2 linked regions of the Homo sapiens genome follow. The protein of the gene in region 1 interacts with the protein of each later gene in a pairwise test. Each region holds a gene or a part of one and is shown in the gene's direction. Other genes may lie near its edges.

Evidence for each region. The genes of interacting proteins can lie anywhere in the genome.
Region 2: the proteins of KRTAP10-6 (region 1) and DHX57 interact in binary tests that used the Homo sapiens proteins (3 or more experiments, as listed by UniProt).

Annotation. Positions count from the first base shown.
Region 1 is NC_000021.9:44,589,859-44,594,509, reverse strand, and holds KRTAP10-6 (keratin-associated protein 10-6), read left to right. Parts: upstream 1-2,004; 5' UTR 2,005-2,025; coding exon 2,026-3,123; 3' UTR 3,124-3,242; downstream 3,243-4,651. UniProt on the Homo sapiens protein: In the hair cortex, hair keratin intermediate filaments are embedded in an interfilamentous matrix, consisting of hair keratin-associated proteins (KRTAP), which are essential for the formation of a rigid and resistant hair shaft through their extensive disulfide bond cross-linking with abundant cysteine residues of hair keratins.
Region 2 is NC_000002.12:38,797,229-38,800,081, reverse strand, and holds the end of DHX57 (putative ATP-dependent RNA helicase DHX57), read left to right. Parts: intron 1-1,627; coding exon of another isoform or gene 1,628-1,639; coding exon 1,640-1,783; 3' UTR 1,784-2,353; downstream 2,354-2,853. UniProt on the Homo sapiens protein: Probable ATP-binding RNA helicase.

The DNA of each region.
Region 1 (4,651 bases):
TGAAGAACAGTGAAAGTGAGACTTTAATGTCGGTCTTGCAAGATCTGGTGTCTGATGGGCGGGCACACCCAGCACACTTTCAACAAGCAATTTATCCCCTAGTGTGCAGGTCCCTCGCCCAGTTCCTCGCAGCCTGAGTACTATGGGGTCACAGGCTTCCTGGACGTCACCTAAGTTTCATTATCCCCTTATAAGGTTACATCTTGTCCCCTTCCCCACTTTACATTTGATTTCTCAATGGCAAAAGTTTCTTTCCTTTTATGTGTTAGCCATCCGTCACTTTTTCTTCCTCCCCTCTGACTTCTGTGAGTCTTATCACTCTTCCCAGATGTCTGTACTGTGTGGCTTGTCACATCTGCAAGGGAGCTGCCTGGACTTGCCAGGGCCTGTTTTCTGAATACGGACCACTTGAAATGTACTTCTTACAGGGTGGAGTCTTATCATGTCAATGGGTCGCAATGAGGCCCTAAACCTCAGAAGTCTTCTCAGGACACAAAGGCACTCCAGTGCACAGCCTCTGTAAACCGGCTGGAGCCAGTCCATGGTTGGGGGTCCCTTATCAGGAGGAGGTTCCTGAAGTCAGTCTCCTGCCCAGTCAGAGCTGTGGTCATGGCTGTGGAACGTGGTCAGTTGGCATCTGCTGGTGGATGAGCTGCAGTCGTTTGAACCTTGCTCATCCTCATCGCGGGGCCAGTGCGTGTTTAGCCACTGTAGAAAAACAGCAGCTGTGGCGTGAGAGCAGAGTCCGTCCTCTCAGTGTAGGGCACGCGGCTTGTCCCTTGCCTGGCGCGGCCTGAGGTCCTGTTTGTAATTTGATATCTTATTGCCAGAGTCTGCTCTGTGGGTCTTACGGTCTCTATTTTAACTTTAGTGCTGGGTAGTGGTTGTGTCGAAACCCTAAAGGGAGGGGGTGTAACGAGGCGTGTCTGACCTCCCTTCCTGTCATGGCCAGGAACGCAGTTTTTCGGGGGTCCCCGTGGGCAAGATGGGATCCATTTAGTCAGTTGAGGGGCTTAGGATTTTATGTTTCGTTTACACTGGCAATGGGTTTGCAGTGAGATCAACTTCTCATGGACCCATTTTGTGTCTTCTGTGCGGGTTCTTTGGACAGATGTCCCTTAATTTTAAGGTGGTGACACTAAGAGGCCTGGCACAGGGCTTGGAAGACAGGGCTGGGAAATGGGCCCAGCAGGAGGCTGGGTGGGGGCTGACGGGCAGCCTCGGAGAAGCAGAGCACACAGAGGAGCCACCCCAGGCGGGGACGAGGGCTGCTGACCGCCCGCTGCTCAGCACGGTTACTCTGCAGGTTCAGAACCCAAAACCACAGCCCAGAAGGCTGTCATGCTGTCCAAGCAGGGAGGGGCCAAGCCCACCGTCCTTGCCCTGGAACACACAGGTCCTGCTGCCTCCAAAACACAAAGACGAGGTGGACACGAAACAGGGCCGGAGGTGAAGAGGCTGTGGGGATGAGAAGTCGTCCAGAGCTCAAAGCCAAGAGGTCTGGGCACAGTTACAGCTGCCCCCCACCCCCACCATGCCATGGCCCAGGGCAGGTCAATGAAGGCTCATGGGCCCCAGGTTGTCCCTCAGAAGATGGCCACAGTCCTGTGTCCGGTGATGGGGGAAGGACCACGCTGGATGAGGGGTTTTCACCACAAGGACACTTCCTGAGGCCGGCTTCCTGCAGAGGGACTCTGTGTCCCGGGGCTGCTGGGGCCAGGGGTGGACGATGCCGCGACCTGTGGCTCTCCCAGCTCCCCGAACCCAGCTGGGACCAGGCCCCGCCCAATTCCTGCCGCCAGGGATCCACATGGGATGGGACACAGCCCAGATGTGATGGGAGATTTATGAGCTGGCCCACATCACGGGCGAACAAACACCCCTAATCCCGGCAGACTCCAGCTCTCGGCAACACGGAAGGGGAAGCTGTGGGCCCGGGGACAACAAGGCCAGGTGGAATAAAAGCCCGAGAGCCTCAGCACCTCACAGGCTCACTCCCTCACCCTCCACCAGTTCAACCCCAGCATGGCCGCGTCCACCATGTCCGTCTGCTCCAGCGACCTGAGCTACGGCAGCCGCGTCTGCCTTCCTGGTTCCTGTGACTCTTGCTCCGACTCCTGGCAGGTGGACGACTGCCCAGAGAGCTGCTGTGAGCCCCCCTGCTGCGCCCCGGCCCCCTGCCTGAGCCTGGTCTGCACCCCAGTGAGCCGTGTGTCCAGCCCCTGCTGCCCAGTGACCTGTGAGCCCAGCCCCTGCCAATCAGGCTGCACCAGCTCCTGCACGCCCTCGTGCTGCCAGCAGTCTAGCTGCCAGCTGGCTTGCTGTGCCTCCTCCCCCTGCCAGCAGGCCTGCTGCGTGCCCGTCTGCTGCAAGACTGTCTGCTGCAAGCCTGTGTGCTGTGTGTCCGTCTGCTGTGGGGATTCTTCATGCTGCCAGCAGTCTAGCTGCCAGTCAGCTTGCTGCACCTCCTCCCCCTGCCAGCAGGCCTGCTGTGTGCCCGTCTGCTGCAAGCCTGTCTGCTCTGGGATTTCCTCTTCGTGCTGCCAGCAGTCTAGCTGTGTGAGCTGTGTGTCCAGCCCCTGCTGCCAGGCGGTCTGTGAGCCCAGCCCCTGCCAATCAGGCTGCACCAGCTCCTGCACACCCTCATGCTGCCAGCAGTCTAGCTGCCAGCCAACTTGCTGCACCTCCTCCCCCTGCCAGCAGGCCTGCTGCGTGCCCGTCTGCTGCGTGCCTGTGTGCTGTGTGCCCACCTGCTCTGAGGATTCCTCTTCATGCTGCCAGCAGTCTAGCTGCCAGCCAGCTTGCTGCACCTCCTCCCCCTGCCAGCACGCCTGCTGTGTGCCCGTCTGCTCTGGGGCTTCCACATCATGCTGCCAGCAGTCTAGCTGCCAGCCGGCTTGCTGCACCGCCTCCTGCTGCAGATCCTCCTCCTCCGTGTCCCTCCTCTGCCACCCTGTGTGCAAGTCCACCTGCTGCGTGCCCGTCCCCTCCTGTGGTGCCTCTGCCTCCTCCTGCCAGCCCAGCTGCTGCCGCACGGCCTCCTGTGTTTCCCTCCTCTGCCGCCCCATGTGCTCCCGCCCTGCCTGCTACAGCCTCTGCTCTGGCCAGAAGTCCAGCTGCTGACAGCCCTGGATGTGATCCGGAGTCCCTTCCCACCAGGGGCTGACCTCCCAGCTGCCCCAGCAAGCTCTGCCCTCTCTGGCTTTGACACCCTCAGAAGATGGGGCAGGCTCTTTGTCTTAGGGACCAGGATGCTCCCCCTGTCCTTCCCAGATGCTGGCTGCATGAGAGACCCCAGCTACTCCCCCAGACCCAAGTTCTGCAGAACTAACCCCCAGCAGGCCTGGTTCCACCCTGGGCAGCACCCCCTCTAGTTCTAATAAAGCCGCCTCTGTCTCACACCAACCTCTGTCCTGTCTGTGGACCCCCGGGGGGCACAGGGTGAGGTGGGAAGTGATGCCACCCCTGACTGCAGGGAGAGTCCTGACCCCCAGCAGGCCTGGCTCCACCCCTCTGTCTCTGTCGACTTTTCATCCTGTCTGTGGACCCCCGAGGGGCATGGGATGAGGCAGGAAGCAATGCCTTCTGGTGCTGGCCTCTGTGAACCCTGAAGGCCAGTCTCCCTCTTAGCCCCGTGGGCCCCCAACCCCAGCACATGGCCCCCCGGCCCATCTTAGGAAAGCTGCCTCTGGAACCAAGGCCAGGAGTTTCGGGACAAAGTGGACCCTGGCAGCACTCTGGGCCCCTGAGCCACATTCACCCTCCCCAGCTCATGGCTGCCCCCCAGGACTGGGGTAGCCCACCCGGGGCCTAGCTCCAGCCAGCAGCCTCACCCCTCCTGTTACCCCTGGGGAGACCAGCTATGGACCACAGTGCCCATCCCTGCAGCCCTCATCTCCTCCACAGTAAGACATGGGGACCACGCCCTCCCCCAGGACTCGAGCCCAGCAGCCCAGTATTCGTGGGGTTCTGGAATACCCATTGCTCAGGCATCGCTGGCGAGAACACAGATGGGCAGGGACCATGGCACCCACTAACCAAGCCTGCGGGCCCCCCTGCCCCATGCGGCCTCGCCTAGACTTTCAGGGTCCTGGCTCCCTCCTGGTCCTGTGGTCCTGGACTCTGACCCCGAGGACCCTGTCCCCACACCCCCAGCCTCCTAGGTCTCTCCAAATAGCCCTCAGCTCTGTCTGCCACCCTCCGCTCTGGCACTCAGACGTGGTCCACGATACCGCGTTGGGCGAGTGGTACGAGCCGCTGCACTCTTTCTGCCAGGTCGCTGTGTGCATTTGAGAGCCCAGGTCTGCCTCCTGCCCCAGCAAATGACCCTTGCATGTCAACGCCAGAGGCGACCAGCACCAGCAGGAGGACCTCCCGGAGTCCCACCCCATGGAGCTCCCTGTGGTCAGCACAGCCGCCTCGCTCACTCCCCTCCAGGCAGACCCAGGACAGCCAGCAGCAGCCGTCCCCAGGGCCGGAGGCCAAACTGACACAGCCTTGTCCACCTCCTTGGAAGCAAAGCCACGTCCCCATGAAGGGACAAATGAGAGCCTCCAGGGGCAGAGATGTTTTCTTCCTGCCCTGGTTCTCCGGGTAGCTGGCAGGGGCCGAGCCTTCATCCTAGGGCTCCAGGACCATCCTGGGGAGGGGC
Region 2 (2,853 bases), on another chromosome or scaffold:
TCCCAAGTAGCTGGGATTACAGGCATACGCCACCACCCGGCTAATTTTGTATTTTTAGTAGAGACGGGGTTTCTCCATGTTGGTCAGCCTGGTCTTGAACTCCCGACCTCAGGTGATCTGCCCGCCTTGGCCTCCCAAAGTGCTGGGATTACAGGCATGAGCCACCGCGCCAGGCTAATTTTTGTATTTTTATTAGAGACGGAGTTTCACCATTTGGACAGGCTGATCTCAAACTCCTGACCTTGTGATCCGCCCACCTCGGCCTCCCAAAGTGCTGGGATTACAGGCGTGAGCCACTGAGCCTGGCCCACTTTTTTTTTTTTTTTTTTTTGAGATGGAGTTTTGCTCTTGTTGCCCAGGCTGGAGTGCAATGGCGCGATCTCGGCTCACCACAACCTCTGCCTCCTGGGTTCAAGCAATTCTCCTGCCTCAGCCTCCCGAGTAGCTGGGATTACAGGCATGTGCCACCATGCCTGGCTAATTTTGTATTTTTAGTAGAGATGGGGTTTCTCCATGTTGGTCAAGCTGGTCTCGAACTTCCACCTCAGGTGATCCGCCCACCTCAGTCTCCCAAAGTGCTGGAATTACAAGCGTGAGCCACCCGGCCCAGCCTATCTACCACCCTTTTTTTTTTTTTTTTTTTTGAGACAACAAGGTCTGCAGTGGAGTGATCGGTGATCAGTAAATTTTCTTTTCCTTTTTTTTTCTTTTTTTTGAAACGGAGTTTCGCTCTTGTTGCCCAGGCTAGAGTGCAATGGCGCAATCTTGGCTCACCGCAACCTCCACCTCCCAGGTTCAAGCGATTCTCCTGCCTTAGCCTCCCAAGTAGCTGGAATTATAGGCATGCACCACCATCCCAGCTAATTTTGTACTTTTAGTACTAAGAGACGGGGTTTCTCCACATTGGTCAGGCTGGTCTCGAACCCCTGACCTCAGGTGATCTGCCCATCTCGGCCTCCCAAAGTGCTGGGATTACAGGCGTGAGCCACCGGGCCCGGCCCTCTCTACCACTTTTAATTCCCCATTTTCCTGCTTCTCCTCGTGGAATAAATCATAAAAATTGACCAAACTTTAATATGGAGAACACTATATAAAAGCCATACTTCCAGACTGAATCTTTTCTTTTTTGGGGAGCAGGGGGGACAGAGTCTCGCTATGTCACCCAGGCTGGAGTGCAATGGCGCGATCTCAGCTCACTGCAACCTCCACCTCCTGGGTTCAAGCCATTCTCCTGCCTCAGCCTCTGAGTAGCTGGGATTACAGGCGCATGCCACCACAACTCGCTAATTTTTGTATTTCTAGTAGAGACAGGATTTCACCATGTTGGCCAGCCTGGTCTTGAACTCCTGATCTCATGATCCGCCCGCCTTGGCCTCCCAAAGTGCTGGGATTACAGGCGTGAGCCACTGCGCCTGGCCCGAATCTTTTCTTTAGATGAGATGTGATAGAGGCACTTTTTTACAATGGACCTCATTTAGTCTATTACAAAATGAAAATGTATTTAGGGTTTTTGCTCCTAATGGAGTTAAAATTAGTACCAGAAATCTAAATAATGGTAATCATAACTTGGGTATTTCCCTCCAATAACCTATCCTGCCTGTTCCTCCAAGCACTGCTTATATTGTAGCTTTCATTTTAGGTGGCTGAACTGGTAAAGGAGCTTCGTTGCGAACTTGATCAGCTTCTCCAGGATAAAATTAAAAACCCAAGCATTGATCTGTGTACGTGTCCTCGAGGATCCCGGATCATCAGCACAATTGTGAAACTTGTCACCACACAATAAAAAGCAGTCTTAGAGAGTGCTTGCTACTCACCTGCTTCTAGCTCACCTGGGAAATAACAGCAGAACCTCTACCTCGAACTAAAGACCTATTGGGGCTGGCCCTGGTGGAGGAGCCCAGGGCATGAAGCCCAAGGCAGCTGAGGCAGTGTATATACCCTTAGGGCCATTTCTAACAAAGCCTTGGCCACTCCCAGCACAATTTGGAGTGTCAAGGGTGAGAGCCTAAAACCCAGCTTGCCTGTCTTTGTCTCTGTGATTGTTCTGGAGTGAATTAAGTTCACCTGATAACTCAAAAGTGAATGTATAATACAATTCTGTTTTAATCTGTGTATTCTTTTTCTCCTACTTTTTACTGGGGTGAGAGGGGCATGAAGAGAAATACGCCTTTTTTTTTTTTCTTTTCCTGTCGCCAAGGCTCGACTGAGAGAAGTCAGAACAGAGAAGGGGAAAAAAAACCCAAAATTATGTGAACAAGCAAAATTAAAATTTCATTTTAGGCTATTGGCTACTGAGTAAACTTGACTTGTGAGGGGTTTTTATTTTTACTCATTAAAAGTCAACTTAAAAAAATTGAATGAGTTCTCTTTTGGTATTAAAGTGCAAGCTGGTCTTATCGATAACACTCCTATTCTTAAAAGCAGAACAATCTAGATGTCGTCATAGTTCTACATTTAGGAATCTTTACTCTGTCTTATCAACTCACCCAGACACGAATCACCGAAGGAGAATTTTAATAGCATTCCTGGGGCAGAGTTGGCATGGATGAGGTCAAAAAGGTTACCATCGGATTTACAGCCACCACAATGCTTTCCATGAAATTGCTTATTTTCAACCACCTGTTAGGTTAATGGGGCGCTAGCATTTTGGAAAAACATCAGGGGATTTACATTTTCCCTGGACATCTATCAGTATGGCGAGGAAGGATCCCAAATTGCTGAGTAGAAAAAATATTTGTATGTTTGTTTAGACCTCAGGGCCGGACGCGGTGGCTCATGCCTGTAATCCTAGCACTTTAGGAGGCCGAGGCAGGCCAATCACATGAGGTCAGAAGTTCAAGACCAGCTTGGGCA